Regions from separate parts of the Homo sapiens genome. Here region 2 is linked to region 1. The links come from fine-mapping of genetic effects on gene expression. Tissue or cell type: spinal cord. Region 1 holds a variant in brackets; the other region holds the start of a gene. All regions are shown on one strand. Distances are from middle to middle.

What was found. PIP is the estimated chance that this variant, and not a neighbour inherited with it, causes the effect.
Region 2: it holds the start of KCNS3, and the variant in region 1 is fine-mapped to the expression of KCNS3 in spinal cord (GTEx, PIP 0.98).

What each region holds. Positions count from the first base shown.
Region 1 is chr2:17,911,863-17,928,682 of GRCh38, forward strand. It overlaps KCNS3 (potassium voltage-gated channel modifier subfamily S member 3), which reads left to right. Exons shown (of 3, transcript NM_002252.5): 2 at 5,818-6,009. Among named protein-coding and RNA genes, the nearest start is that of KCNS3, 42 kb to the left of the region's middle. The variant G/A (reference allele first, on the strand shown) is at 6,790.
Region 2 is chr2:17,871,125-17,887,646 of GRCh38, forward strand. It overlaps KCNS3 (potassium voltage-gated channel modifier subfamily S member 3), which reads left to right and starts at 7,543. Exons shown (of 3, transcript NM_002252.5): 1 at 7,543-7,682. LOC124907737 (a long non-coding RNA gene) reads right to left here and starts at 5,438. Exons shown (of 2, transcript XR_007086226.1): 1 at 4,241-5,438. RefSeq lists silencers at 7,154-7,313, 7,324-7,523, 7,614-7,663.

The sequences.
Region 1 (16,820 bases):
TACCAGTTTCTCCATCTGCAAAACGAATGCAATAAAAACACCACTTGTCTGAGTGCTGCAAGGATTAAATGGATTTAGACATGTAAAAAGCACAGGGCCAGACTTAGTATAAGGAAGCTGTAACTTCTGTAACTTTTATTATTTCAGCATTTTTAATGGCTACAGAGTATTCATTGCATGGCTACCCCCAGTCTATTTAATCATTCCTCTATTGATGGACGTGCAGGCTGTCTTTGACATTTCACTCTTACAAATAATGATGCAGTGAACAACCTTGTACATGCATCTTTCAACGCTTGTCTGATTTATTTCTTCAGGACACATGCCAAAATGTGAAACCCTGGGATTTTGTGATACACATTGCTATGATGTCCTCCAGAAAGGTTTCTTTAAGAAGTTTTCACTGCTATCATTGTATGATACTTTCCTGCTCACTCCAAAGCTGCTTGCTTTCAGTTCCTCTTTATCGGCCTGTGTTAGTGCAGTTGTTTGATGCATTCAAATGGGACAGCCCTAGCCTCTGTCTCCAGCTAGCCATGCGGTAGGGAGATGACTACAAGGTGGATGGAGCCAGTGCAGTTCCTTTCTGTGGCCAGGAGCAGTTGCATGGACCACTCAGAGTGACCCTAGAGCCCTGTCAACACTCAGTGACTGTGTTGTACTTCCTTCTATGAGGTGCACACCCTTCCGCAGGGAAGCGCCTGGTCTGCCTGTCTCTCCTTTCCTTTCTCTAGATTTTCTTGCCAAGGCAACACAGCTGCGTCCCTGCTGCCTCCCCTCCATTCCCCAGGGGGAGGTTGTCTAGAAACATAGAGCAGGAGGAAAGGAAGGTGGTATTTAGTTACCCATGCATCAAGTCTTGGGATTCCTGCAGTTGGTATGGCATTTACTCACTCTGAATGACCAAGAAAAATATAATTTATACTAACCTTTCAAAAATAATTTAGAGACTTTGCTTTAGAAAGCACTTACTGGTTTGTCCCTGAATATATTAGACCCTGAGAAGTTTTCATTTTCTTTTAGGGACAGATTTTTAAAAATCATGTTAATTCAAGGATTTGCCATATTAACTTAAGGTACTTCTTGAAATTTGACAGTTAAATTTGGACAGAGTTAGTAGTGGAGGGATATTCTTAGTCATGCCCTGTCTGAATCAACTGGAAGATGTTTGATTCTGATTGCTTTGGATTATAGGATTTAAATATCAGTACATTTTTTTTCTAGCACACTAAATCCAATTATGGCAGTATGATTATGATATTTTAATTTTATTTAATTAAACACTGGGTGACAGTTTTCAATAGTTAAGCCAGATAGAGGTAGGGTTGGATTTCACCTTTTGTTATTATTCATATAATTTTATTGCTCTCAGATTTTATTAAAAGTAGGTCTGTCGTTGATGTATGGTAGCAAGACTACAAAACTGACATGAATTTGCATTTTTTCCAGGGACACCAATTAGTCTCCACAAGGTTGGAACTTCGGTCAGGAGTGGGCGTATTCAGCAGGCTGAATAGCCTACCTGCAGAAAGCTGCAGCAGGCTATAGATCTGAAACTAGATTAGTGCATATGCACAGTATATCATTCTGGCACTAAAATGTTAGAAAACTTAAGACAGACTCACTAACCTTTAGACTCAAATTGCATGAAGCATGGTTTGAGTTTCCACAAAAGGTTAAACTTGCTTTTATCTTTCTTCATTTTTAAAGTTTTGGTTGTATGACACTGTAAATGCCATGACTGAATTCTAAAAGAACAAGTGTTGGGAGGGTATCCCCAGCCCCTGTCAGCAGATGAAGTATTAGTACAATTTGTCATTCCCAGTCTTCTGACCTTCCAGCTCCCAAACAGGTGCCTGAGGTTCTTTTCCTGTACTTATAGAGCATTGGTTCTTAAGTGGGGATGATTTTGATCTCCAAGGGATATTGGCAGTATCTGGAGACATTTTTGGTTGTCACAGTATTGTGATGGGTGGGTGGTGTACAAGTGGCATCTAGTAGATGAAGGCTAGGGGTGCTGCTAAACACTCTACTGTGAATGGGACAGCCTCCACAAGAAAGAATTACCTGACCCCACAATGTCAATAGTGCCGAGGCTGAGACATCTTGCCGTAGAAGTTTTCAAGGTTAGGATATCTCCAGATAAGCTAGCTGCTGCCAGGAGGGTACTCACAGGTCCCATTTCCCAGGTAAGATTATCACAGGTTGGGTCGGAGTCAGCTATCTCTTAGCCTTGCAACTACAGAATTTCACCTCAGGTGTCCCAGAGCTGATCAAACTGTAGGAGGTTGACTTGCATTGAAACTCACAGGAAATTGCATAAATACACCTCTTCCTGTCTTACTAAGTTCCATTACAGTCATAGACAGAACTAGCAGACAGAGTAGACACTTGTGTTGGCCGCATAGCTCGTTTGCTCCTCATAGCAAGGTGTGTGGGAACCCAGATCAGCAGGAGGCACCTCAGGGAGCCTGGAGTCAGAACAAAGGGAAGTCTTTGGGGATTATACAGATACCTGAAACTCCGAGGTCTTGACATTCAAAACCCCACTCTTGAGATGTCCCACCATTTGGGTTGGACATGCTGAGTCTTCAGGTTAAGACTCTTCTGTTTTCACCACTGCTGGGATTGGTCGTGGGAACCAGCCTCAGTCTTTCACACTTTCCTTCTCTGCTGCTACTACTTACCAGCTGCCTTTCATTATCCACATTTATTCTTTTCATTAATTTACTCTTTAGTCTTGTTGGCTCAGGGAAGAGGAATTGGTTCAAAAAATGTGTCATGCACTACCCTGTGACAGCGATAATTAATATGAAGATTGATATTAGGACACTGTCCCTAACTGGAGGCTTTCTCAGTCTAGAGGGTGGCACTGATGTGACAACATTTCAGAAGATTGTGGGCAGGACAGTGATGGGGCCACACAGGATTCTGTGCAAGCACAGAGGACACAGACCTACGGTGCACTGTCACTTGGAGTGTCTGCTTTGATCTATCAGGCACTGATTTTGTAGTTTTTGGAGGGCAACCTTACTCCTATGATTCTGAGACCTGGGAGAATGGTGCAGGGAGTCATTCTCACTCATGTGGACTGTCTGCTGTCCATTTGCTTTTCCTTGGGTTCTGTTCCAAGATTGGGTGTCAGGAGTCTGGAAGATGAAAGAGTCCAATATGCCACTTAGTCATTACCTTTTCCCTCTCAATAATGGAGGCAGTCATTTGTTCACTTTTGAATGCTGTAGTCAACCCACCAGGAAATGCAGCCAGCCTGGAGGGAAGTAAAAGGATGATGCAGAGAGTTTTGTGAAGAAAGGAGGGAATTCTGCAGAGGGTGGCAATATTTGAGTGAGCTTGATGTGTTTTCCAGGATCGGGCTGAATCACTCAGCAAAGTCAGAAACCTGTTAAGTGCTAAGTCACAAACAATGCTCTCTTCTTTTGAACAGGCCAACACTGATCGGGCTGGTAGGAACATAGAGAAATGGAAACGCTGGATGGGATTGTTAGGCAGGAATGGGAGAATGGGAGGATATGTTGAATGGACACATTTTTCTTCCCCAAAGCCTACTGGCTTGGGTCATGTTCTGCTCACTCCCCCCAATCCCTGCTTGACCTTCCCCAACAACTAAGAGGGATCTTGATTTTCCACACTAATTGAACTCAGGCAGATCTACCTGAGTTTAACTCCTGGCTGTGGTGCACCTTAGGTGTAGGACTTTGGACAAATCACTTCTCTGAGCCTCAATGTCCCCCATATAAAATGGGGATAATACCACTTATAATGGCTGAGGGCAGAGGAGATGTGTGTAAAAATCCTAAAAAGGTGCTTAGCTTCTTGTGGGTCTCAGAAGATGCTAGTTATAATTTTATGTTGAGAAGTCACACTTAGAATGTGAATGCTCTTAGAGAGGTGCTAATTTACATAAATTCATAACAAGAGATATTGTCTGGTATTACATCTTGTCTGAAAATCCAGTTTTTTTGGATAGGAATCATGGTGATGGAAAATGGGGCAAGGCACAGGAATTCTGAGTTTTGTGGGGAGGGAGAGAGAAAGGGACAGCCTGGGATGTCATTTATTCATTAGACATAGACTAAAGGCCCATTACATACCAGTGCTATAAAAAGGATACACTTGGCTAACCTCTCAGTCTGTCTGTGGACCAGCCCTGACCTTTCTGTGGTAAGCCAGTGCAATGAACTTTAGGCGGTGCTTGGGGATACTTAGAAATGCTGCATAGCCTAAATATTTGGTTATTTTTTCTTTAGTAATTAATATAGTGATTTATTAATTACCTCTCAGCCAGATTAATCCTACCTTCCCTTAAAGTGTGCTACAGTTGGAAAGGCATCTGATAGGGAAAGGAAAACTATGTGTGTGCTATATCCTTTTACCAAGGTGCAGCAGCAGTTCTGTGTTTCATTGGAATGCAGAGAACTGAGGCTGACCCAAGGACATGCCACTGAGAGGCCATGAAGGAGGAAGAGGGAGAAAGAAGGAGGAGGAGGAAGGGGAGGAGGAGGAAAGCATGGAGGAGGAAGGAGGAGGAGTTTAGCACCTGAATTGATTTTACTTACCCTGTTGAGATTTCTCTACCTCCTCTGCTAAGTGTTCCATCTTATAAGTTCAGTTTGGGTGGAGCTGCATTTGGCTTCTGGATCTTTCTTCAGTATAATCTCTGTTGGAGGTGGGAATTTACCCCTCTGCAAAGTCCAGATGTGCTGAAGGATTGCTCTGCTGTTGCTGGGACAACTTGGAAACTGTGTTCCTGCTTCATTCCCCCTCCATTGCCCCTTGATGTTGTTAGGATGCTATTCACTTGTTTATTTGGTTTTGGGCCTGAGAGCTCTTGAGGGACTGGGGGCAGGCACTGCATCTGGTTTATAATCCCAGTGCCTAAGATAATGCCCAGCAGATCATAAACCACAGTGAATGTTTGTTTAATCACTGGCCTAGCCAGAGGCACTTTTTTTTTTTTTTATCAGAATCAATATTTTCTTCTTCTTCTTTTTTTTCCCTCCCCCTTTTGGACCTGGTGTGGATTGAAAAACATGAAAATCAATGGATGGATGCTTAGAAGCTAGTACCAATGTATGGGAATGCATCAGCATGAGGCAAGGCTTACCTGGGTGGAAACTGGATTTTTTTTGCCTTTTAAAATTTATTCAGAGAGAGAAACTGAAATTTGGCTTTTTATTTGTTGTGACAGAAACTTAAAACATCCCCCCAACACACACTTCATATACATAACCACACACATAAACTGTGATTGCACCTGTGTCATTTCTGATCTGTGAAATATAATAATGGGCAAATAAAGCAAAATTGAATTTGGCCAGCCTTTGAAATCTATTGATTTCAAATTAGAGCAGCAGTGTTAATTCTATTATAGCAGTAATACCCAGAAGGTAGATTTTGAAATGGATTAGAATGCGTTCATTTAGAAGCTTACAAGTATATCTCGATGAATTAGCTGGGAGAATAACACTTCTATAAGAAACCATGTGGGAGTAGGTAACTGCAGCCCTAATTCTAGTGCCTGGTTTTATCTTTAGATGTTTTAGTGGCCTCTGTCAGTAGAGGAATCCTAAGACTTTCACTACTGTTGAGTTCTGAGGATCCTTAAACCTAGCACATGTCCAATGGCAGTGATGGTTCCACAGGGGGAAGAGACCACCCCCCACTTGCTGAGAATTAGGTGGGGCTTTCAGATTTGAGTCTCATCAGCAAAGTGCCCAGAGTGTTGATCCTGAGGTAGAATGTCTTGGGTGTATTTCTTCCTTGCAGTTACAGCTTGGCTGATGGTTTTTTCTGCAGGTGAGAGTGATTTTCCAGTGATTGCTTTGGCCTGTACAACCAGAGAACAGGATTCTTCCCTTCTTTTTGGCCACCAAATGCCTATGTGCACCACACATTCCAGTGTGCTGAGAAGGGCAGAGCTTCTTGGATGATGATGGACGTCCCACCGGGCAGGATGAAGGCAGAGCGTGTGGCATCTCCACCTCAAGGGTAAGAGTTGCCATTCTATCTTATTTTCTCAAGCACCCATTATTTATCAAAGGAGGATGAGAATGAGCGTTACAGTGTAGTGAGAAAGATGAAAGTTAGACACTTCTGATGGTCAAATCCACTGGGCAGTTGGGACAGATGACTATGGGAAGAAAAGTGTTGGTCTCAAAGGATTAGATTGGAGTTATATTAAGGGACACCACTGGCCAACTTTAGAAAATGCTGTGGTTCACATTTTCTCCCTCTCCCTTTTTTGACATTTATAGTTCAGACTTGAGAGAATGACACTACTGTTATTGTAACTAGGTTCCATTTGTGTTCATGTTAGCCAGTCTGGCTTAAAATGTGTGTTGTGGACTGGAATTGGTCAGAGTCTGGCTCAGGTCACAGACTGGGTAGCTCATCAGATGTACCTGGGCCAGAGGCACATCTTTGTTTGAGCCACATCATGCTTCAAACATGTTGGATCAATTCTAACTAAACTTGAGATATTCCACATAAGGATCAGGGTTTCCAGGTTCTCCTGGGAAGACGGAATGATATGTCTATACTGGGCCTCTGTTCCTAAAAAGGATTCTAGTGCTGAGTAGCCTCTGCCTCTTAGACAAGTGGGGACAGTTCACCACCATCCCCAACCATCTCATTTGTTTGACTTGTTTGGTCACCGGAGGTATTTAATTTTGCCATGCCTGTTCTAGATCATTCTGCTAGCTCTTTGACAAAAGTAGTAATAGCCTTTGTTAATTCCTCCAGATAAAAGCAAGTATCTTTTACTAGATT[G/A]TGGGCAGCACTTAGCATAAGGGGCTATAGCTGTAAGAGGATAATACATGGTCCCTTCCACAGCGAAGCTTGGAGTCTAGAGTGAGCAACAATCAGACTTGTGGGGAATAAGGAGAATTGTAGATAACATCATAATGCCTTGTGATATGTGCTAAAATCAAGGTGTACACAAATGGGCTATGGGAGAGGGTAGAGAAGAGAGAACCATTAATTTGGCCTGGGCCCAAATTCTCCAAAACTCCCTCCCCTGGGCAGCAGAGCTTTCCCATGACAGACCTCTGTATGTGCTTGATTCCAAGCAACCTGGCTCAGCTGGAGATGTGATGGAGTATTTACAGCAGGGCTAGGGGCCCCTCTTGTGGTAAAGTCCAGGTTTTTCCTGTTTCTGTTTGAAAAGCTATCATCTACGATTCTTTGCTTTTTACAAAGAGGACAGCTTTCTGGTTGTTTGGCTCACTAAATCACTCAGCCTTCTGAGCAGCTCTCTGCTTGGAGATGAGCTGTGTGAATTACAGAGATCCCTGGAGTTTCCAGAGAGTAGCAGTCACACTAAATACAGATCCAGAGGGAGTGAGTACAACTTTAATGTGATTGTACTAGTTGGTGGGAGTAAGAGAAGGGAAGGGAATAGGGGAAGGAAGTGGGGGAAGGTAGAAATACCATTATATCAGTCTTTTATTTTTGGAACACAGTTTTACATGTGGCTTGTGCTTTATGTTTTCAAAAGACTTTTACATTTGTTATTTTATCCTCAAGGTGGGTTTATAAACTCCTTCTATAGATGAAGACTTCACCTGCCCAAGGTCATGCAGATAAGAAGAGGCAGCTCAGACACAAGTTTTCAGAATCCTAGTCTTTCCCTCTTTTTTGCTAGTTGATGCTGATAATTCAGCATGAATAAGAGGACATGCTGTTTTTGTTTTGTTAAGTTCAACATTGAAACGTTGCATTCAGTTTATGAATGCTCTGGAATAGAGCACCCTGGGACCCTGCAAATTGTATGGACCTGTGTCATTCATGTGTTGTCCAACTGTGGCCCATGCTGTCAGAACATGTCCAGCGCAGAACAGACCTGGCAGGGAGTTTTCTTGCCTGACTGTTTGGCCGGTGGGATTCACGCTTTACAGCAAGCCTTCCTCAGTGGACTGGGCTGCACCACTTGGAAAGCTACTGGAGGTGTTGGCTCCATGTAGGATCCTCGCCATGCTCAGACAATGCTGTAAGAGAAGACTCTTACCAGGGAGGCACCTGGTAGGAGGTTGGTAAGGAGGAGACATGGGTATGGATTGAGTTTAGGTTTCCAATTCTGTTTACGTTTGCTTGGTTTTTCCATTTTGTATATCCCCACATGGCATGACCAGAAATTGAATTTAGCATGACCTACTCTTTAAAAAAATCAAAATGAGCTTTCTTTTTAAATTTAATAGAATAAAAGAAAACTCTTAGAAGAATGTTCCAAAAAGAAGGCAGTGTTAAATGCTGAAAATGGTGTATTTTTTTCTTTGATGAAAAAGGATTAATGTAGATTTTTGGACATCTACAAAACAAGAAGGAAAAACAAATCTGGGTTTTTATTTACTTTTATGAAATTGATACCAAAAAGCAGTTCTGTCCAGTAAGACAAATTGGCTTGTATTATAATACTTTCATTACTTTTCTGAGCAAAGCAGGTGCATTATCAGAGACAGCCATGAGCTTGTGTATATGTGTATGAGTCAGCCTTGAAAAGACACAATTTTGAGAATATTTTCTTAGGTGAGTTTGAGAGCATGAAGCAACAAGAGCAGGAAGTGGACCAAGAGGAGGCGAATAAAAGGTTAATGGCTTTGAAAAAGCTTTACAGGGTGCCAGTTGGAGACAACTGAATCAATGGTAGTTTTCATTTTACGCTGCCAGGGAGTTTCTTGGATTTTTGACATATTCTTCTTCTTTTCAATCTTATAAACACCAAGAGGGACAAGGTGGTCAAATACTGTATATATAGTGTTCTCACCATGAGTGATGTGGGTTGATAGTAGGGAGGAGAATCAATACAGTGAAGCTAAGTTTAGCTTTAAGAAGAGAATGAAAATAGCAGTTGGGTCTTCTACTTTGTGGCCAATGCCACTGTACCCTCAGATGTGCCTGATTTTAGACCCCATGTGTCTTCAGCATGTGAATGTCAATCTCCTTACAGTATGGCTGACATAATATGCAAATGAGAACATCAGCCAGTCTCTACCTCCTCCCACTTAAAAAAATAAACTTTAAATACTCATATTTGAGGCATTGTGGAAAGAGTCTGCCGCATAAAAGGTGGACAACGTTGGGCAAATTCTGAGCCTCAGATGTCCCCATTTGCAACACGGGAGTCTAAGGTCTATGACTTAGGGCTGTTAGAGAATTAAAGACAATGATTCATTCATTCAGTTACATGTACTCATTGCCTGCTAGTGCCTATGTACTGCACCAGTTGTTGAGAATAAAAGAGTGAATAATAGTGTATATGAAAGCACTTACCACAGTGCATAGCCTGAAAAAAGATGCTTAGCACATTTTTCTTAAAACATTTTTAATGGAGAATTTTAACATGTACAAAAATAAAATAATACATTAAACTCTTTTGTGCCTATCCATGACCCGCTGCAACAGTGATTAACTCATAGCCATCTTGTATGATCAGAGCTCCTGCCTTTCCATGTATTATTATGAAATCAATCCCCAATGTTGTGTAATTTTATCAATAAATATTTTAGTATGTATTTCCAAAAGATAAGGGTTTTCTTTTAAGAACATAATTATATTACTATTGGGACACTGAAAAATTAACAATGATTTTTTTTATAATATCAAGTATCTAGTTGGTTTTTGTACTAGTTCATTCTCACATTGCTATAAAGAACTACGTGAGACTGAATAATTTATAAGGGAAAGAGGTTTAATTGATTAAGAGTTCCGCATGGCTGGGAAAGCCTCAGGAAACTTAAAATCATGGCAGAAGGCAAAGGGGAAGCAAGCACATCTTACCATAGTGAAGCAGGAGAGCGAGAGAGAGTGAAGTGGGAGATGCTACACATTTTCAAACAACCAGATCTTGTGAGAGCTCACTAACAATCATGAAAAAAGCAAGGGGAAGTCTGCCCCCATGATTCAATCACCTCCCACCAGGCCCCTCCCCTGACACTTGGGGATTACAATTTGACGTGAGATTTGGGTGGGGACACAGAGCCAGACCATATCAGTTTTCAAATGTCCCTGATTTTCATATATATGTGTGTGTGTGTGTATATATATATATATATATATATATATATATATATATATATATAAATACATATACATATATTAAGCATTTGGCTGGTTAGAATCAGGATCTGTACAAAGTCTGTACACTGGCTTTGTTTGATATGCCTCTTATTTGATCTGTGTCATTTGTCCTGTATGGTTTCCCAGTCTTGATTTTGCTGATTGCACCCCTGTGGTGTTATTGACCATATTCCTCTAAAATATTTATTTTGTTCAGTAAAATCTAGTTATTTTATTATATTAGGCTTGATTAGTGGGTTCAAATATTGTAACTCTGATCTCTGTTATGAAATTCCCCATCAGCTTTTTATCCGGATTTTATCAGCCATTGATTATCATTGCCTAGATCTATTATTTTATTATGAGATTTGAGTTCTATTATTTCTTTTTTTACTTATTAGCTGGAATCCCTATTTATTCACTTATTTTTATTATAATTTTAAAAAATGATAAATAGAAATAGAGTCTCACTGTGTTGTCAAGGCTGGTCTCAAACTCCTGGGCTCAAGTGATCCTCCTGCCTTGGCCACCCAAAGTGCTGGGATGGAATCCCTTTTTAAATGACAGTATTATTGAGATATGCTTTGAATACAGCAAAATCTACCTTTTTAAAAATGGGTTTAATGCAGTGGTTCTTGGTATATTCATGACTGTACAACTTTCTAATTCCAAGACATATTTATCATCCTCAAAGGAAACCCAAATCCATTAATAGTACCCATCTCCCCTCCCCCCAGCCCCCAGCAACCACTAATCTACTTTCTGTTTCTATAGTTTTGACTATTATGGATATTTCATATAAATGGAATAATACAATATATGATCTTTTATTGTCTTTTTTTAAGTAGACCTTTTTCATTAGCATAAGTTTTCAAAGTTGATCCAGGTTGTAGTCTGTCAGAACTTCATTCCTTGATGGACATTTAGATTATCTCCCCTTTTTCGCTATTATGAATAATGCTGCTACGAACATTACATACAGTTTTTGTTTGAACATATGTTTTCAGTTCTCTTGGGACTATACCTAGGAATGGAATTGCTGGGTCATATGGTAAACCTGTTTAACTTTTTGAGGAATGGGCTTAAACTGCTTTCTCAAGTGGCTGTACTATTTTACATTGCTTACAATGACACACAAGGGTTCCACTTTCTCCACATCCCTGCCAACACCTGATGTATCATAATACAACATTTGCATTATTATTACTTTTTGACTATAGCCATCATACTGGTATGAAGTGGTGTCTCATTGTAATTTTGATTTGCATTTTCCTAATGTCTAATGATGTTGAGCATCTTTTCAAGTACCTTTTGGCCATTTATATGTTTTCATAGAAATGTCTATCAAAATTATTTGCCCATTTTAAAGGAGTTTATTTGTCTTTTTATTATTGAGTTGTAAGAGTTCTTTATTCTGGATACTATATCCTTATCAGATATATGATTTGCAAATATTTTCTTCTATTTTGTGAGTTGTCTTCATTTTCTTGATACTTGTCCTTTGAATTGATAGTGTCCTTTGAAGTGCATTTTACATTTTGATAAAGTCAATTTAACTATTTTTTCTTTATTTTTCTGTAATTTTAGTGTTATAGCTAAGAAGCCATTCCCTAACTCAAGGTCATGAAAATTTATGTTAATTTTTTTTCTAAGAGTTTTATAATTTTAACACCTACATTCAGGCCTTTGATGTATTTAAAGTTAATTTTTGTATATAGTGTGGGATACATATCCAATTTAGATTTTTTTGCATGTGGCTATCCAGCTGTTCCAATACTATTTATCGAAAAGACTCTTCTTACCCCTGTTGAATTGTCTTGACACACTTGTCAAAAATCAATCAAAAAGCCCATATGGGCTTATTTTTCAGTTTATTGATTGATTTTTGACAAGTGTGTCAAGAATCAATTTGTCAATTTCTGAAGTTTTAGAATTTTGGAATCAATTTGTCAATTTCTGAAAAAAGGCAGCTAGGATTTTTATAGGAATTGTATTTAATCTATGAATTAATTTGGAGGGTATTGCCATTTAACAATAATAAATCTTTCAATCCGTGAACATTGGGTGTCTTTCTATTCATTTATTTCTTCCATAATTTTTTCAACAACATTGTGTAGTTTTCATTTTACAGGTTTATGCCACTTTTGTTAAATTTATTTCTAAATATTTTATTTTTCTGGATGCTATTGAAAATATAATTGTTTTCTTAATTTCATATTTGTATTATTGCTAGTATATAGAGATACAGTTTTTTTGTATATCAATCTAGTATCCTGCAAAATTGCTGAACTTATTTATTAGTTCTAATTTTTTTGTATATCTATTCCATAGGATTTTCTATATACAAGATCATGTCATCTGCAAATAGAAGTAGGTTAACTTTTCCTTTTCAGTCTGGATGCATTTTCTTTCTTTTCTTTGCCTAATTTCCCTGACTAGAACTTCCAGTACAATGTTGAATAAAAGTGGTGGGATTGGACATTCATGTTTTGTTCCTGATCTTAAGAGAAATGCTTTTAGTCTTTTTTCATTAAATATGTTTTTAGCTGTGGGTTTTTCATAGATGCTCTTTATCAAATTGGAGAAATTCTGTTCTATTCTTAGTTTTTGAGTTTTTGTTTTTAATCATGAAAGAGTGCTAGATTTTTCAAATGCTTTTTCTGCATCTTTTGAGATGATAATGTCATTTTCATTATTTCTTTAGTATTTATATTACCTTGATTGATTTACACGTTAAGTTAACCTTAAATTCCTGAGATAAATCCCACTACTCATGGTAATATAATTCTTTTTATATGTTGCTGGATTTGGTTTGCTGATGTTTTGTTGAGGATTTATTCATCTGTATTCATAAGGGATGCTCCCTGTAGTTTTCTTGTGATGTCTTTTTCTAGTTTTGGTATTAGGAGAATACTAGCTTCATAGAAGGAGCTGGGAAGTATGCCTTTCTCTTCTAATTTTTGGGAGGGTTTGTGGAAGATTGGTGGTGATTGTGGTAAAATTCACCAGCAAAGCTATCTGTACATGAGCTTTCCATATGAAAATTTTTAAAATTGCAAATTCTGTATCTTTACTTGTTAATAAATAGGTTTATTCAGATTTCCTTTTTCTTCTTGAGTTAGTTTGTGTAGATCATCTCTTTCTAGTGTAAACTAAAAATAAAATTCTAAGCCCTCTTGACTATCTGAATGGACCCCTCCTCTAGGCCAACGTCATTCCCAAATTAACCTGAAAAATGAGTTCAGACCATGATGAGAAGGAGAGGTAAGACATGCTTCATTATACCCTCCTCTTTTTTGGAATTCAGGAAAAGCTTACCAGCGTCAACATCAACATGAACCTTAGGACTGATAGTGCAGTCTCTTTAATTCTGATAAGAAACATTTACTGTCTATTCTCTCTGAAGTTGCTATCTGGAGGCTTCATCTGCATGATAAAACCTTGGTCTTCACAACTGCTTATCTTAACCCAGACATTCCTATTGATTCTAAGTCTTTAGACAATGTATTAATCTGTTTTCACGCTGCTATAAAGACATACCCGACTGGGTAATTTAGAAAGAAAAGAGATTTAATTGACTCACAGTTCCGCAGGGCTAGGGGGTCTCAGGAAACTTACAATCATGGTGGAAGGGGAAGAGGCACGTCTTACATGGTGGCAGGCAAGAGAGAGTGGCGAGAGAAGGGAAAAGAGCTTTTTATCAACCATCAGACCTTGTGAGAACTCACTCACTATCATGAGAACAGCGTGGGGGAAACTGCCCCCATGATCCAGTTACCTCTTACCAGGTCGCTCCCTTGACACGTGGGGATTACAATTCAACATGAGATTTGGGTGGGGACACAAAGCCAGACCATATCATTCTACCTCTGGCCCCTCCCAAATCTCATGTCCTCATGTTTTAAAACCAATCATGCCTTCCCAACAGTCACCCAAAGTCTTAACTCATTTCAACATTAATTCAAAAGTCCAAGTCCAAAGTTTCATCCGAGACAAGGCAAGTCCCTTCTACCTAGGAGCCTCTAAAATCAAAAGCAAATTAGTTACTACCAAGATACAATGGGGGTACAGGCATTGGATAAATGCTTCCATTCCAAATGGGAGAAATAGGCCAAAGCAAAGGATTGTTTTGGCCCCCAAACAAATTGGCCCCAAAGGGGCAAGTCTGAAACCCATCAGGGGAGCCATTAAGTCTTAAAGCTCCTAAATGATCTCCTTTTACTCCATGCCTCACATCCAGGTCACAGTGATGCAAGAAGTGGGCTCCCATGGTCTTGGGCAGCTCCACCCCTATGGCTTTGCAAGGTACAGCCCTCCTCCCAGCTGCTTTCATGGACTGGTGTTGAGTGTCTGTGGCTTTTCCAGGTGCTCAGTGCAAGCTGTCAGTGGATCTACCATTCTGGGGTCAGGAGGACAGTGGGTGTCTCTTCTCACAGCTCCACTTGGCAGTGCCCCAATGGGGACTCTGCGTGGGATTCTAACCCCACATTTCCTTTCTGCACTGCCCTAGCAGAGGTTCTCCATGAGGGCTCTGCCCCTGTAGCAAACTTCTGCCTGGACTTCCAGGCATTTCCATACATCCTCTGAAATCTAGGTAGAGGTTCCCAAACCTCAGTTCTTCTGTCCACTTGCAGGCCCAAGACCACATGGAAGTCATCAAGGATTGGGGCTTGCGCCATCTGAAGCCATGGCCCAAGCTGTACCATGGCCCCTTATAGCCATGACTGGAGCTGAAATGTCTGGGATGCTGGGTGCCATGTTGCAAGGCTGCACAGAGCAGCGGGGCCCTAGGCCTAGCCCATAAAAACTTTTTTCCTCCAGGCTTCTAGGCCTGTGGTGAAAGGGGCTGCTGCCAAGACCTCTGATATGCCCTGGAGAAATTTTCCCCATTGTCTTGGCAGTTAACATTCAGCTCCTGGTTACTTATGCAAATTTCTGCAGCCAGCTTGAATTTCTCCTCAGAAAATGGGTTTTTCTTTTCTATCACATCATCGGGCTCCAAATTTCCCAAACCTTTATGCTCTGCTTCCCTTTTAAACAAAAATTCCAATTTCAAACGATCTTTTGTGAATGCATAAAACAGAATGCTTTTAAGAGCACCTAGGTCACATCTTGGACACTTTGTTGCTTAGAAATTTCTTCCACCAGATACCCTAAATCATCTCTCTCAAGTTCAAAGTTCTACAGATCTCTACAGCAGGGGGAAAATGCCACCAGTCTCTTTGCTAAAGCATAGCAAGAATGAGTGTTTGTTCCAGGTCCCAATCAGTTTTTCATCTCCATCTGAGACCACTTCAGCCTGGGCTCATTGTCCATATCACTACCAGCATTTTGGCCAAAACCACTCAACAAGTCTCTGGGAAGTTCCAAACTTTTCCACATCTTCCTGTCTTCTTTGGAATCCTCCAAACTGTTCCAGCCTCTGCCTGTTACCCAGTTCCAAAGTTGCTTCCACATTTTGGGGTATCTTTATAGCAGTACCCCACTCTCTGTGGTGCCAATTTATAGTATTAGTCAATTTCCATACTGCTATAAAGACATACACAAGACTGTGTAATTTATAAAGAAAATATGTTTAATTGACTCACAGTTCTGCAGAGCTGAGGAAGCCTCAGGAAACTTACAATCCTGATAGAAGGGGAACAGGCATGTCTTACATGGTGGCAGATGAGAGATGAGCAAAGGGGGAAGAGCCCCTAATAAAACCATCAAATCTTGTGAGAACTCATTCACTATTACAAGAACAGCATGGGGAAACCACCCCCATGATCCAATCACCTCCCACCAGTTCTCTTTCTTGACACTTGGGCATCACAATTGGAGATGAGATTTGGGTGGAGATACAAAGCCCAACCATATCAGACAATAATAACTTAACTCTTTCAACCAATTGCCAATCAGAAAATCTTTGAATCTGCCTATGGCCTGGAAGCCCCCCACCTCAGCTGCCAGTTTTCTGGGCTTTCTGGACAGAACCAATGTACATTTTACATATATTGATTGATTTCTTGTGTCTCCCTAAAATGTATATAGCCAAGTTGTAGGCCAACAACCTTGAGTACATGTTCTCAGGATATGCTGAGGGCTATGTCACAGGCCATTGGTCACTCATATTTGGCTCAAAATAAATCTCTTTAAATATTTTAGAGTTTGACCCTTTTTGTTGACACTAGCAATTTGTACACTTCATCTAGGTTATCTAATTTGTGGACATATGATTGATCATAGTATTCCTTTATAGTTCTTTTCATTATGTAAGGTCAATAGTGGTATTGTTCTTTCATTGCTGATTTTGCTAATTTGAATCTTCTCTCATTTTTTAATTTTCCTTTGTTTTGTTTAAGTTTTGAGACAGAGTCTGACTCTGTCACCGAGGATGGAGTGCAGTAGTGCGATCTCGGCTCACTGCAGCCTCCCCCTCCTGGGTTCAAGTGATTCTCATGCCTCAGCCTCTCGAGTAGCTGAGACTAGATGTGCATGACACCATGCCCAGCTAATTTTTGTATTTTTTGTAGAGATGGGGTTTTGCCATGTTCACCAGGCTGGTCTTGAACTCCTGGCCTCAAATGATCCATCTGTCTTGGCCTCCCAAAGTACTTTCATTTTTTCTTGATTAGCCTAGTTGAAGATTTGTCAATTTCGTTGATTGTTTTAAATGACCAATGGCTTTGTTGAATTTTTTTTAAATTTTATTCTCCATTTGTTTATTTGCATGTTAATCTTTATTATTTCCTTTTTTTTTTTCA
Region 2 (16,522 bases), 41 kb before region 1:
ACGAACAAACAAACTAACAAACAAACCAGGAGAGAGGCCTTGTACATGCTAATGATGACAATATGCCGTAACTGAAGAGTATGGTCAAGTTAACCCTCTGCATCCAAGGGAAATAAAAGAAGGAAAGAAAGATGAATAAGTCAGTGCAGCTGACCAACACTCCTCAATATTTCCAGCTGTTCATAAAGAGGAAGAGTGAGGTGCATTCAAGATGAAATGACCTGTGAGTTACTGCTTACAGAGAGTGGGGCGTTCACTGCCCACTGTGCTCATCCAGAAAGACTTTTTGAACCCTTCTCACCACCATATTTTGAAATGGAAGAATTTCCTTCTCATTATTGTGAAAAGAAATGGTGATTTTTTTTCAAAAGAAATTTTAATGGAAAATGAAACAAGACAAAATATGTAGAACAGAAAGACATTCAGAAAAATAGTGTCTAAACACACATTTTCTTTTTTTAAACCCTAAGAATGAGTATTCTAGTCCCCAGGCTCCTGGCTGAGCCTGTGCCTGGATGCCTGGCCTTGGGCTCCCTTCCTTGCCCCAGGCGGGCCTCAGGCCCTGACCTCGTCTCCCACCTCCACTTGAGGAGCACATTCAGGGTGGTTACAGCTGACTCCAGGCCCCTTTTCTTTCAGAGGATAGGGGGCAACTTCCTCACAGATGCAGCCTAGTGATGCCACGTGTGGCCCTCTTGTGTATGATATTTAGTTTAACACAGGCTTTCTGGAACACATGGGAGAACCTGGGTGCCTGTGTTGTGGGGTGATGGGTTTCCACTTGAGCACTTAGAGAACCCTTTGTCTCACGATGATGGACACTCCTATTTCCTTCCCTTCCCCAACCCTGGGTCACACTAGACCTGTCATTCCTCTTTATATCACTAAGAGCCGGGTAGTGAGTTTGCCAGTTATTTCCCACAGGGCTGAAGGAAGGCTCTGTCCTAGCAGCCTTGATTCTGGTAACATAGGGTCTTTCTTTCTTTCTTTCTTTCTTTCTTTCTTTCTTTCTTTCTTTCTTTCTTTCTTTCTTTTCCTTCCTTCCTTCCTTCCTTCCTTCCTTCCTTCCTTCCCTCCCTCCCTCCCTTCCTCTCTCTCCCTCTCTCCCTCCTTCCCTCTCTTGCCTACTCCTCTCTTTCTGTCTCTCTCTCTCTCCCTTCCTCCCTCCTTTCTTCCTTTCTTTCCATTCTTCGTGGGATTCCTTAAACATTTTATTTGAATCTCATTTATAAATATTTTAACTTATAAGAACTAATGAAAACCATCATGAAGACTCAAGAGTGCTATGCCAAAACTGTAACACACTGAAACTCATCAACAGGTTGAATACTTCTGACACAATCCCCCAGTTTGCTCATGCTTTAGAATAAAACTTCAGCTGTGCCTAGCACTTATCAGAACCTCCTCTGGCTTAGAGTTGGGAGCTCTCAGTGGCCTGCACATGGGAGGTGGGAGGGAGTGAACTGACTGCCATTGTCACCTCACCAGACACACAGACTAGGACCTGGTACCTGGGCCAGAAGGTGTGGGCTACTCTCGCCTTCAACATAGGGTATTTTCATAATACAAGGGACTGGGGAACATGAAAAAGAGGGATCTTCAGATGCCAGCACCCAGGTGTGAGGGCGACATCCGAATCCCCACTTTTCAGCAGGCAGAAACTCTACCCTTGAAGATGGATGTGAGTGACAGAAACCACAAATAACAACAGCTGAAATGAGATGCTAGTTTCTTTCTTTCATATAAATGAGGGCAGTCCAGTGCTGTTAAGAGGACCTAGGCCCCTTCTAGCTACTCATCTGACCATCCTTATTATGTGGCTTGTACCTGTGGGTTCAAATGTCTATCCAGATCCAGTGATCTTCTCTGTGCTCCAGAGAGCATGAAGGCAAAAGAGGGAAGGGGAAGGGCACTCCCCTCTTCCTGTGAGGACACTGCCCAGAAGCTGAATGTGCCACTTCCACTGACGTCCCATAGGAAATAAGTCAGGTACATGCTGTCCTCTCACTGCTAGGATGTGTAGATTTTATCCTAGGCAGCAATATCGCTAGGAGGATGGCCAACTGTCCTGGTTTGCCCTGGAATGTAGTGGTTCCTGAAATGCTGGACTTTGAATTTTAAAACTGGGGCAGTTTCAGACAAACTGGGAAGAGCTGGTCACTCTAGTACCCAGTAATACTTGGAGATATTATTACTGAGAAAGCAGAAATGATCATGAGGGTATGCCCAGGATTCTTTGTCATGGGGATACTCTTCATTTGTCTAGTTGGAAATGAAGGCTGTGCCTTAAGTTCCACCCCACAAATGAAGGGCTACTAAAGAGGTGCGAAATGCCCCCAGAGGAACAACCATGAGGATGACATATCTGGTCTTTGCTCCCTCTTGGTTTGCTTTCCTATACCTTCCCCTGTTGTCTTTGTTCATCCATCCATCCAGTTATCTATGCAGGCATCCAATCATCTCCCTTTTCATTCATTTTTTTTTTTTTGAGATAGAGTGTTACTCTGTCACTCAGGCTGGAGTGCAGTGGTGCAATCTTGGCTCACTGCAACCTCCGCCTCCAAGGTTCAAGCGATTCTCAGGCCTCAGGCCCCCGAGTAGCTGGGACTATAGGCACCCGCCACCATGCCTGGCTAATTTTTGTATTTTTAGAAAGATGGGGTTTCACCATGTTGGCCAGGCTAGTCTCGAACTCCTGACCTCAAGTGATCCACCCACCTTGGCCTCCCAAAGTGCTGGGATTACAGGCATGAACCAGCACACCTGGCCACTTTTCATTCTTAAAGTATTTGTTGAGCATCTATAATGTGCTCTTAAGATATTGAGATGAACAACACCACTTAGTTCCTGCCCTCAAGGAACTCACAGTTTAATCCATCCATATAGACAATGAATGATAGTACAGGAGTCTAACTGTAATCGGAGCTTTGTACAAAGTATAATGGGACCCAGTAGAGCAAGCAACTAAATTTGCTTTGCGAGTCAGAGAAAGCCTCAGAGAATGGGTGACATATACTGGATCCTGGAGATTAAGCAGGCATTTTCCGGTGGAGAAGGAAACACTATAGGAACGAGGCACCAGAAAGGCAAGACTCAGATGGCATGCAGTGAGCATAGAGGAGAGATGGGCCACTTCTGTCGGGCTGGAATGTGAGGAAAGTGCAGAGGAGAGGGGAGGGGAGGTGGTGATGAATGAGTAAGGCAGAGAGAAAGGTGTGAAGAGCTTGAAATGTGGTAAAAAATCAAGTTGTGACCAGAGTATGAGCAATCTGGAAGGCCATCCCTGGAAATATTTTCATGGGCTAACTTCTCAGACAGAGCCTTTCCTATACTAGAGTGTTATGAGGACCTGCCAGTGTGATGGAGTAAACACCTTCCTTTCCGTGCCTAGGGTCAGGCACAGGTGTTCTGTGGCACTCACCTTGGGCAATACTCAAGGGCCTTCAGAGGGTGATTCTGAGTACCTGAGGACAGCATTCCTTTGTGCCTGGAGACATAGCCTGTCACAGGGTTTTTTCTTTCTTTAATAATTTATAAAGTGTCTCCTTTTATCTATAGAAACATAAAGCTTTTAGACCTGGCAAGGGCCTTAAAGATGATATAGTCCCAACCCAAATGTAGGGCCCAAGAGGAAATATCACTGAGGTAATCAGGGACAGAGCTGAATCAGAATTCAAGTCTTTGTACTTGAAGATCATAAAGATTTAAGGAATTTTTCTTTTTCTTTTCTTTTTCTTTTTTTTTTAGACAGGGTCTCTCTCTGTCACCCAGGCTGGAGGGCAATGGCACCATCTCTGCTCACTGCAACCTCCACATCCCAGGTTCAAATAATCCTCCTGCCTCAGCCTCCCAACTAGCTGGGACTACAGGCATGCACCACCATGCCTGGATAATTTTTGTATTTGTTATATAGGCAGGGTTTTGCCATATTGCCAAGGCTGGTCTTGAACTCCTGGACTCAAGCAATCTACCCGCCTTGGCCTTCCAAAGTGCTAGGATTACAGATGTGAGCCACTGCACCCGGCCTTAAGAAACTTTTGATATAAAAATAATACCACAGGGCAGTTAGAGTAAGCATACAATAATTTTGTGAAAAGAGCATGATCATTGTAGCAATAATCTGAAATAAAAACATTCTAGCTGATTGAGAACTAAATTTAATTTAATGTAAATTTAGTTCTGAGCTTCCTGGCAGCCAAGCAAAGACAGCGATATGATGGTTTACATGTTTTATTTTTACCTGGCAAAAGGTAGCGTAGAAATAAGGGATTTAGGTTTTGACTAGGATCAGATGAAACTGGGCAGCCTTCAGTAATTCACTTCACAAACATGCAGATCCAACAGAAGTTCCTGGAAATTCAGTCTTCAAGGAGCTTATTGTCTAGTGGAAGACAAACAGTTAAAATCCCATATGGTAGATTCTATGAAAGTGGGAGGCAAAGGCTGCTGAGGGAGTGTGGAAAGGAAACACACAACACACAACCCAGGATGAGAGAGGCGGCTTCCCAGAGGGTCGTGATTATGATGTGATTATCCACTGAATCTCATCCTAAGGGAGAAGGGGTCTGTTGGGCAAAGCAAAGCTTGGTGATGGGGAACTGTGTTCTTAGCTGAGGAGGCACTGCTGTGCATTCAGAGAGTCAAGAAAAAGCATGGTGGGTCTGGGGAGTTGCAGGTGTTTCATGTGCTCAGACTAACTGGAGTGATATTCAGGCAGCTGGGTAGAAAGTGGCAAGTGAGAGGCACACACCAAATAAACGCTGCTCATTATGACTATACCCCTCACTCCCAACCTTCCTGCCAGAGATGAGCACATCTTCATTTTCACCTGCAGACCTGTTCCAATTTAAGAAGCTAATGAGCACTTCCCTTTCCTTCAGGACTAAGGCAAGTACTAATCTAGCTGATTTCTGTCATTTGAACTTTAGTGAGAATAAAAAGTCGGGGACAGGTTTGGCTCTGGGGAGGGAAGGGAAGACATGGATGTGTGATAGGTGGGTAAGAGAGGGAGACCTCCAAACGAGGCCTGGAAGACAGACTGAAATGCATCCCACATTAGTGGCATGTGTCTCCATCCACTCCAGGAGTCCTCTGAAACCACAGAGGAGTGAGCATTATTGTCAACGATGATTAAATGATTGACCCCTCACAGATTAAATGCATGGTTTATCTAGATGTTTCTCTATAGGCACAGTTAATTAAGAGGGAACGGGATGTCATATCGGGAGGCATAAAGACTGGGCAGGAAGTGGGTGTGTGGGGAAAAGGAGGCAGTTAGTTCACAGCATGCCCCCGGTAATGGAGACTGGGGTTGGGGAAGGGGCTACATACCGTGTGTGTGAATTTACCACTTTGCCTAGCTCAACCTTGGTCAACATTCAAGAGTAAACTTTTGGGGAGCAGACCTGCCTCAGGGGTCATCCGATGTGGTCCTTTTTATTATTTCATTGGCTTCACATGATTACCCTGGGAGAGAGGAAATTTCCTTACAGATGACAAAATCAGGGCTGAAAGACGAAGTGGCTCCCTGCAGGGCTCAGCAGGGTAAGAAGTCCTGTCTGTCTCTGTCTCAGATCTGTGGCCCTTCTCTGTGCCCACTCCTACATGCCCACCGTGGAGGCCCACCCCTTCTGTCCTCAGCTCCTGCAGATGCACAGGGGCCCTTACTGGCTCCCACTGTGTGTGCCTTCCCGACTGCTCACATGTTCCGCCCAGACCCCAGGAGAAAGACCTCACTGCCAACTCTTCTGCACTGCAGGTGCCTTCTGCAGTGCTTAGAGATTCTGAACATATTTCCTTCTCAAGTAAACCATGCTGGACTTTTTGGATAAACTTAGTGATTTTAAAATGATTAAATAGGTAACTGCTGGGAGAGATCTGGAAGCATTCTTCTAAGGTGTTGATAAAATGTAAATATATTTTTAGAACAATCTTAGAGCTTATGCTAAAGATGAACTATGTAAGAAAGTTACCTTCTTCAGCCACTTGTAAATAGCAGTGTGGACCAATGCTTTGGATCCTCTTCCACAGGAGAGGAGACAAGATTGGAGGAACCAAAGAACCATGGAATTAGGGACAAATGGCTCAGAACAGTGCTCTGCAGACACATGCATCTGTACTTTGCTTCCCAGAAGCCAAATGAAACTGTTGGAGCTTGGTGGGCTCCAGGCCTCAGGGGGAAGACCACCCTAGGCTTTATCTTTTCCTCTGCCCTTCCTGCCTGCTGTTAGCCTCTCCTCTGGACCAAAACTCCCTTTAAGGGGAAAACCTCCTCTTTGAAGCCCACAAGATACGGTGAGGATTACTGCCTTTTTCTGATTTCCAACGTGGGTTTTTCATTAAGCAAAGAACAATTAGAAAACCCACACATAACATAGGGTATTCAGTAAGTTCAGGAAAGTGTTTTCCACCATCTCTTTGCCCCCATTCCCTCCCCAGCGCTTGGCTCAAGGTCTGGAGCTTGAATCTGCATCGTCTTCCTAGGTGCTTGCCTGAGGTGAGTGGTCAGCGGGTGCTGGCTTGGGGGCAGCTGGCAGGGCGTATGCTGCGGGTAGGAACCCAGGGAACACTGGGCGCCTTAGCTTGGAGCAGCTGGCTCCGAGGAATTGTTCCACGTCTGCACAACTTAAAAATCTGCAGTTTGGGGGCGGGAGGGGGAGCGCGGGGGTGGGTCCCGAAGCGTCCCATTTCTCCTCCTGGCTGTTAACTGAGCGCTCTCGCTCAGTGCAGCGAGGCCAGCGATGCCTTCTGGACCACACGCTGTCCTCGCCGAGGTCCTGGTTTGTTCCTCAACGTCGGCTGAAGGCATCGTCCCCTGACTTCCTCTTCCATTCGTCCTTCCGAAAGGGGACCCGACTGGTTCCTCTTCTACATATGAGGCGCATCTGCTTGGTGCAAATGTCCAAGCACCTCTTCTGACTCGGTGAGTGGAGGAATAAGACAAAGCATCTTGTTCTGCACTGTGCCTGAGTCTTCAGGCAGCGGGACCGATGGCAAACATTGGCAGGAACTGGAGCTATATGTACTCTCCTTCGCACTTTGTTTTAAAACAAGTTTGGGCCTCGCGATTTCCTGAGGAAATCCAGGCAAATTAGCAAAGTGTCGCTTGGGCCGCGACTTTAGAAAGGCGGTTGCCCCAGCCGCCGGGGCCGCGGGGGAGGTCATCTTTTTCCCGCAGGGCCACGGCGCTTCCGGCCCAGGAGGGCGCGCAGGTGGGAGGCGCGGGGCGCGCTCCTGGTCCCACCCGGACAGCGCCTGCCGCTCCGGGGTGACTCTGCACTTGGGCCTGGGCGGGGGCGCGCGGCCGGCAGGGCAGCATCTAGGTCTATGGGTCTGTCCGCCTGTCTGGCGGTCGGAGCCCCGCAGTCCTCAGCCGCCCGCGCCCTCGGCCCGGGGCGCCCGGCTGCGGGCCCGAAGCGAGGGGCTGGCGGAGCTGCGACCAATGGGGCGGCGGCCGAGCGGCGGGCCCCGCCCCGTCCCGTCCGGCCCCGCCCCGCCCGCAGCTCCCGGGAGCCTCGCTCTAGCGGGGCGGGACCGACGGACAGACCGGCCGACGCGGGCCACCCCGCTCTCCTCGCCGCCGCGGCGGCAGGCGCGGGGCCGCGCCGCGAGGCCTGATCCCTGCAGCGCGGGCAGGCGGCGTCGCAGAGCGGAGCTAGCTGGATGCGTCCGGACTCCTGCAGGTACCTGGCTGGCGTCCCCACCTCCCTGCGCGCTCCGGAGACTTCTCCGGGCGACCCTGCAACTTTACCGCGCCTTCCCCCACCTTTTGCTGCCCCAGTCTCCTGTGGTCCAGGTCGCGGGTGCACGACCCCGAGGGTCTACGGCCGCAGAGCACTTTCCGTCCTTCTGGGCGTCTGGCCCGCGGCGCCCGCATCCTCTGGTCCCCAGAGCCCGCCGTCGCTGGAGCCCTAAGGCTCCGCCTGTTGCGTGAACTGCGGGCTGTTGAAGCGGTGGCTGGGTTGATTTGAAAGCCTCGGGGAAGGTATTTAGGATCAGCTTTCGGGGAGTGGGGTGGGCTATGGTCAGGGGGAGGACCACCTGGAGGCGGGAGAATCGATGAGCCGAAGAAAGGCGGCACCTCGCGTAGGGGCATCCCCGGGGCGTTTCCTTGGCCGGGAAGCCGTTCCTTCCCTTCCTCGAGAGGAGGCGCTTTCCTGGCGCTTGTAAATGCTTCCCGGGCCGTCTGCTCCGCCTTCTTTGTCATTCCTCCCCTCCCCTTTGCCCTGCAGCTGTGCTAGGCGCCCCGCGACAGTTGCAGGGAAGAGCGAACCCAGGGCCCTTGCTCTCGTGCAGCGCTGCGCCCTGGGTGGGGACGGCGTGAGGCTTGCAGCGCAGGTGTGGAGTCACTTGCGGACTCTGCGTTTGGATCAGTGGCAGTGGTGGGGAAGGGTCACCCCGGGGTCAGGAACTCCTCTTTTTTTTTTCGCGCCTTTCTGGGTGGCTGCCCGACCTCCTGAGGCACCTTGGCTAGCAAGCGAGCCAGTCTTGCCGGCAGGGGCCGCGGCGAGCCTGGCTGGGCGCCTTTCGCATTGCAGGGCTTGTCCTGCACCCCCAACCCCGCTCTGTCCCTTCTCGTTCATTTGGAGAAAGGAGCACCTTTTGCATTCTTGATGTCTCCCCCCGGTTTTGTCTGGGGAGACCGAGCCGAAAGCTTCACTCGGGTGGCCCGCAGCAGGGGCAGAGGACAGCAAAGAGCTACCTCCACCTGCCAAAATGACCCAGGGGCCCTGGTTTGGTGCCAAGGCGTGAAGTGGGGGGAGGGGCGGTAGGTGTTCCTTACGTTCCTGCCGGAGAGTAGCTTTGTGGTTGGCCCGGAGCCTTCGTTCGGGTTTTTTGTCTTTCACCCTACCCTCTGAAAATACTGGAGCAGATGAGTACAAACAGTTCAGAAGCCTTTCCTGTTTCTTTCCCTGTATTTACTCAAGCGATTTGCGTAACCATTCACTTGGAACTGTGTAAGTCACTCCTAGTTGCCCCCCTTCTTAGACTATTTGCAAATACCTGCCCAGGTAAACAGGAAGCACGCACCTATCTCTTAGCTGAAGGCATATGCCCTCGTGCTTTGTCTTCCCTGCATATCTGGAGCCGAAGAGGTGGCTTTGATTCTCTAGCTGAACTTGGTGTAATGTGCAGGCTCCACTTCTTACCTGGGTGGTGACCTTCTTGAGGAGATTGACTCGTTCAGTATGCATTTCCAACCAGCCCGCCATGGGCCAGGCCCCAGGATGCACTCGGGGACAGACAGCAAATGGATGATATAATTTCTGCACCCAGTCTAGTCTGTTCTTTCTTTCTCACCAGCTTCCCTTCTTCTCTTGTTCTAATATTATGTTTGTCGTTTCTGAACTAGGAATTGTCAATATTGGGATCCGGAGAAGGTCATATGAAGGTGCCATAGAACTCTGAATCCAAAGCATGTTGTGAATATACTAAGGAGACTTGCGGGATCAGTATTAATTGAATCTTTTGTCTGACCCATAATTGCCTGAATAGAGCCATTGATGAATGCAGCTACGCTAAGGTTTTGCTGGTCAAGTGTATGAGGGCAAATTGGGAGGTCAGAAGCAGTCTTTGTTCTGTTCTGAAATATTATAATATTAAAAATCCAAAGCTCTGGAGCTTGAGTTTGCCAGCAAAGCACCAACTGAGTATCATCATCTTCTTTTAAGAAGGAAGGGGGAGAGTGGGAACTGCAGCTCCCTCCTGTCTTCAGTGGGTTTTGCCCTTCACTGTAATTCTTCACAGACGTGCATCCCTCTGTTCTACCACCCATCTCAATCTGCCCTGTGTCTGGCATTTGCCATTGGAATGTGTGTCAGCTTTGAGAGAGTAGGCACCACAGGGTTTTCCTCCTCCTTTTCCTTCTATTTTTTAATAGATAACATTTATTAGCTGCATACTATATATCAGATACTCTGCTAGGCACTTTTCCAGGCATTATCTCATTTAATTCCCATAACAACTGCATGAGGATGTGATGCTTGCTTTCTTCACTGCAGTATTGCTGTGGGAGCCAGCAGTAGATGGAACCCCCCAGGTGCATGTTGAGTCAGATGGGAGGCCAGTGGGAAATGGTGGGCCTGAGGTCTCACTAGGAGGAAGGACGACTCTGCAGGGTATGTTGAAGCAGAGAAGGTGGGTGTGTTTATTGACTCTGCTTATCAGGTGTCAGGAAAGTGCATCTTCCAGAGTGCCACCTGTGTGAAATACCCACAAAGAAACATCATAGAGAAGAGAATAGGATGTGGGGACCCAGTTTCCAGCTGTGATATCTATTTCTTTATGGCTCCTTGACTTGACATGTCATTTTGCTAATCTGGGTCTTGGTCTGTTTAGCTGCACTGACCTAGATCTCTAATATTTGTTGTTACGCTGTACTAGGCACTAAAAGCTAAAAGCTTTTACATGTATGAACTCACTTCATCCTGATGACAATCTTAGGATGGTAGGTTCTATTATCACCGTATTTTACAGGAGGAAAGAGAGACAAACTGAGTAACTTGTACAAGGTCACCCAGCCCGGAAAAGGTGAAGCTAGGATTCTATCCCTTGCAGTCTGACTGCAGAGCCACTGTGAGATTCAGTTTTCCTCATTTATTCCTACAGTTCCAACACTGTTCCCTGTGCTTAGTGGGATCTCGGACTACATTTGTTGAACAGTGACAGAGGGGGCTTACAGTTACCAAGTGACTTTTGGGTCCCATGTCTCAGCCTTAAAAGGAATCTCAAAGACTGCGTTAGCAAAATATTATTTTTGCCTTTGACAAAATGGTCTGCTTTTCGGTGAAATTCTGCCCAGCTGGTTAGGAAAAAAGGAAGATAAACCATAAAGATCATGGGCCAGGGAAACATTATGGTGAGTTTCAGAAAATGTGTTTATCAATATAAGAAATTCAGAAAAACCACAGAACACTTTGTACTCCGACGCAAATTTGTCAAGTAAATCAACCAGTGACCAATTCACAAGTGCTTATTGTATGGGTGCTAAGTGCCCAGTACTACAGGCAATGAAGGTAGGCAGAATCTATGACATGGTCTCTGAGCTTGAACTTATAGTGGATCTGGAGACTCCAGATCAGTGAGACAAGATAGAACAATACAAGATGCTAAATGTTTAAGTCCTGATAAAAATCACAATGACTCGGTCACATTTGTATAACCTATTGTGGTTTGTAGGAACTTTCACATGGGATATCTCATTCCAGTCCTCAGAGCAACTGAGAGTTATAAGCTATAGGTGGGACAGAAGTTAGGAAGCCCATATTGCTGATGAAGAAATTAAGGCAAACTGAGCCTTGAACTTGGACACAGTCAGGGGTCTTCTGACTTTAAGTCCAGCATCTTTCTGCCTCACTTCTCTCTGGAGCTAGAGAGCAGAACAGGAGGGAGTGAGCTATCGAGAGTCCTTGGGGAGTGGGGAACTGAGTTTGAATTTCATCCTGGACCTGGCCTTTGCTTGCTGGTCTTGACTACTGTGGGTGCTTATTGGAGGCAGGGGATGGGGAGTAAGTACAAGCTGGGGAGGAGGAGAAAGAGGAGAAGAGTGTTGTTGTTTTATTGTTTCAGGGGCCTGCTGTTTTGTGAAGCCTGGAGTGAATACTCAATTATCATGAACATAATAACAAGGCTTAAAATGTACAACAAAATGTAGAAACTGATTTAGAATTTTCATCCCTGTTTTTCTTTATCATTTCTCTAGATCATCTTTTGAAACTTTTTAGCATATCTGCACATTATACTTTTTTTTCACAGTTGTTAAGAGGATCAAAATCTACACATTATAAAAGTAAACTCTTTAATAAGCTAAAATAGTTACTAGGCTAGGTTGTGGTATTTTTCTTGTGGGCAAGAGGTCTCATTCTCTTTGGAATCCTGCACAGCCTTGCACTACGATTTGCTTTGAGGAGATACTGTATAAATATTGTCTTCAGTTGCACAAGTATTGAACGATAAAGGCATAAGATCTGCTTTTAGCCAATAATGTTACAGTTAAGCAGTTAATGTTGGCAGCAGCCAGCCTCAGTGAGTTTGGTGAAGTGCCAAATGAATGAAGTATCTTGCTGAGTATTCTACTAATCAGCCATCCGAGGACTTACCAGATGCTCACCAAAGGTGACATAATGATTAACTTATATAGTCACATATATGTATTCTCATTATATATTCAAATCCGTGCATACATTCATTCAACAAGTATTTGAGTACTTACATGATGTTATGTACTATGCTAGGTGCTGGGTATACTGTGGTAAAGGAAACGGTGGGGGGTTGGGGTGGGGTGGGGTGGGGTGAGAAGTGGGAGGGAGACAGGCATTAAACAAACCAATGCAAAATTTAAGTAGTGGTAAGTTCTCTAAAGGACTTCATGGGAGAGAGTAACAAGGGTAGGGAGGCACTAGTTTAGATGAGAGGGTCAGAGAAGACCTTTCTGAGGAAGAGACATTTCATTTTGAGTGATAAAAGGAGTCCATTAAGTGAAGAGTGGGAGAAAGATAATTCCAGGCTGAGGATTCTAAGGCAGGAATGAGCATTGAGCCTCTTTTTGTTCTATGCAGGAACTTCAAGAGAACAAGGGTGGGAACAGCTGGGAGGAGGTTGTAGAAGAGGGCTGGGGTCATCCCATTACTGGGTATATACCCAAAGGATTATAAATCATGCTGCTATAAAGACACCTGCACACGTATGTTTATTGCGGCACTATTCACAATAGCAAAGACTTGGAAACAACCCAAATGTCCAACAATGATAGACTGGATTAAGAAAATGTGGCACGTATACACCGTGGAATACTATGCAGCCATAAAAAAGGATGAGTTTATGTCCTTTGTAGGGACATAGATGAAGCTGGAAACCATCATTCTCAGCAAACTATCGCAAGGACAAAAAACCAAACACTGCATGTTCTCACTCATAGGTGGGAATTGAACAATGAGAACACTTGGACACAGGAAGGGGAACATCACACACCAGGGCCTGTTGTGGGGTGGGGGGAGGGGGGAGGGATAGCATTAGGAGATATACCTAATGTAAATAACGAGTTAGTGGGTGCAGCACACCAACATGGCACATGTATACATATGTAACAAACCTGCACGTTGTGCACATGTACCCTAGAACTTAAAGTATAATTAAAAAAAAAAAAATATATATATATATATATATATATATATATATATATTTAAAAAGAAGAGGGCTGGGGTCAGATCAAGCTGTGCCCTTTAGGTCAAGTTCAAGGTCTTATGGTTTATTCTGAGGGCTGTGAAAAATGGATTTGCAGAAGGTGAGTGTCACAAGCCAATTTAAATTTATACAAGATTGCCTGGGAAGGCTGTGAAGAACAGATAGAAGAATAGACTGAAGAGGTACAAGCATGGGAAGCAGAAGCCTCGTTTGGAGGTGTGTTGTGTGTTGCAGAAGTGGAACCTAAAGTGAGATTGGCCTGGGTTGAAAGATGAATGGAGGTGAGGAAGTGCAGACCATACACATAAAGCTTGGTTGTGAAAGGGAGCAGAGAGACAGGATGGGTGTAGGGGCAGGTTTGTGTCTATGTGGAAGGCAACCTTGGCTGAGGTTAGGGATGTGAGTCCAGCTCGTTGGTAAATTAACAGATATATACCTCTGTGTATAGAGTTATAGCACTTCTAGAACATTAGACATTTGAATCCTATCTCTGGCTTTATCTCAAAATCTAGGTAACTTTAAGCATATCACTTTGAGTACTTCTAGAAGATTAGACATTTGAATCCTAGCTTTGGTTCTGTCGCCAAATCTGGGTAACTGAGCATATTGCTTGTCCTTCCCTGTTGTTTTTTTTTTTTTTTTTTCCTCACTGCCTGGTGATTTTATAATTTTTTTAAAAATGCAGTCTTCCTGCAATGTTCTTTAATAGCATTATTTATATGTGTTAATGTGGGTTATTTTTTATAAATTGAATTAGCAGAACTATGAATGGGGATGTAGGAACATTTGTGGTAGGATTCTAAGCATTTGCTCATTGTTGATCATGGATAAGCTGCTTTCAAATTAGCTTAAATAGAGAGACACTAATAATAAAGTCTAGTGGTGAGGAGACAGTAACCCTTCCAATGTAGATGGGATAAGGACTGATGGAGAGTCCTGGGCATGGTTATGAGCCACTTTTTGTGTTTCAGTGGGACTCCTCCTTACCTGGTCTTCTTCATTGCATGAGACGCTTCCTCTGTACGCATGGATATCTGTTAAAAAGATGATAAGAGAGGTACATCTGGTCTGTTTTCTGAGAACCCATTTGTGTTAGAGTTTTCTAGACAAACAGAACCAATAGGCTGTGCATATGTGTAGAAAGAGATTTATTCTAAGAAATTGGTTCACGCAATTATGGAGACTGGCAAGTCCAAAATTTGCCGGATGGGCCAGCAGGCTGGAAACCCAGGAGAGCCAACACTCCACTTCAAGTTTGGAGGCAGTTGCTATACAGCCTGGAAGAGCTGATGTTACAATGAAGTCCAAAGGCAGGCTGCTAGAAAATTCTTTCCTGTTTGAGGGGGTCCAGGCTTTTTGTTCTGTTCAGGCTTTCAGCTGATTTAATGAAGCCCACCAGCATTATAGAGGGCAGTCTGCTTTACTCAAAGTCTACCAATTTATATGCCAGTCTCTTCCAAAATACCCTCACAGAAACACTGAGAATAATGTTTGACCAAATGTCTGGGCACCCTGTGACCCAGCCAAGTTAACACATAAAATTAGCCATCACATCACATTTAACAGAATATACTGGCCTAAACATCAATAATGACCGTCACAGATAACCTGATGGGGCATTAAAGAAGGATAGAGTATCCAGTGATCAATTTGTAGTTGTAGGGAATGAGAGTATAAATAGGGCCATAGAGCCTGGGCAACAGAGCGAGACTCCATGTCAAAAAAACAAATACAAACAAACAAACAGGGCCATAGAACGGAAAGTTATTCCAAAAATCAGTCAAGTCATTTGCTGCCTCTGGACTTTAGGAATGCTGGCTTAAATCCTGACAAATAATTAGTGTATAGAGATAAAAGAATGCCAGCAGACTAAATTTGGGGCTTCAACATGCTTATATATTTTTTACTTTTATTCTGCTATGCACTGGATTGGCTTTCCTAAGTCCTGATGGACATGCCATGGTGAACCGAAAAGCATTTCCTATGATTTACTTGAGATAAAAATGTAACTGGCCAAAGAGATGGGAGAACTTCATGGTTGAATACTGTTGTTTGTAGATTTGGATTGAGTGGAGATGTTGTAGCAAAGGCATTTCATTATTCTTGTCTTTGAGTTCAGACAAAACACTTCTTGGAAGTATTTTTTTTGTGGGTTTTTAAGATCTGAGTTTTCTAAGTATGGTACCTTCGTGAGGCCACTGATGTAAGACCCCAGTCTTCCCTTGGTGCTCAGATGTTACGAAGATGAGATTCAGCCCTGAGGCTCAGGCTTGAGCTTCCATGACAGAGCTTGTCTCCTCTGGGATGAAAGGGTAAAAAGAAAGGAAAGTACCATGTATGGCAGTGTTCATCTGGGTGTCCCCATCCATCCGTCCGTCCATCCATCCATCCATCCATCCATCCATCCATCCCATTCTTCCACCACCCATTTAAATGTCCATCCATCCATCCATCCATCCATCCATCCATCCATCCACCCACCCACCTACCCACCTTTGCCACAGTGTAAAAAGGTATCAGGGTCCCCATGCCCTCTCATCTTCTCCTTAAATCACAATTCCTACAAAGTAGGCTCTTTTAAGATGTGAACATAGGAGTCTTGTGAAAGTTTATGCAAAACCTGAGAACTTTGTTTTTTAAGCAGGTTCCCCAGACTTGTTGATGTAATTAGAAATTGAATGTCAGCATGGTGCATCTTTTTGGTGATGAGAACCGAATTTTCTTCTCCCAGCCTCTCTAGACTTAAAGCAGCACACGTTGCTTTCTCATGTAATTTTTATTTTATTATTTTTTCTCTTCTATTATTATTATTGTTTTTATTTTTCCATAAGTTATTTGGGTGCAGGTGGTATTTGGTTACATGAGTAAGTTCTTTAGTGGTGATTCGTGAGATTTTGGTGCACATATCACCTGAACAGTATACACTGCACAATATTTGTACTCTTTTAATCCCTCCCCCACTCCCACTCTTCCCCCTGAGTCCCCAAAGTCCATTGTATCATTCTTATGCCTTTGCATCCTCATAGCTTAGCTCCCACATATCAGTGAGAACATACGATGTTTGATTTTTCCATTCCTGAGTTACTTCACTTAGAATGATAGTCTCCAATCTCATTCAGGTCACTTTAAATACTGTTAATTCATTCCTTTTTATGGCTGCGTTGTATTCTATCATATGATCTATCTATCTATCTATCTATCTATCTATCTATCTATCTATCTATCTCTGTATCTATATATATATCACAGTTTCTTTATCCACTCATTGATTGATGGGCATTTGGGTTGGTTCCACGATTTTGCAATTGTGAATTGTGCTGCTATAAACATGTGTGCAAGT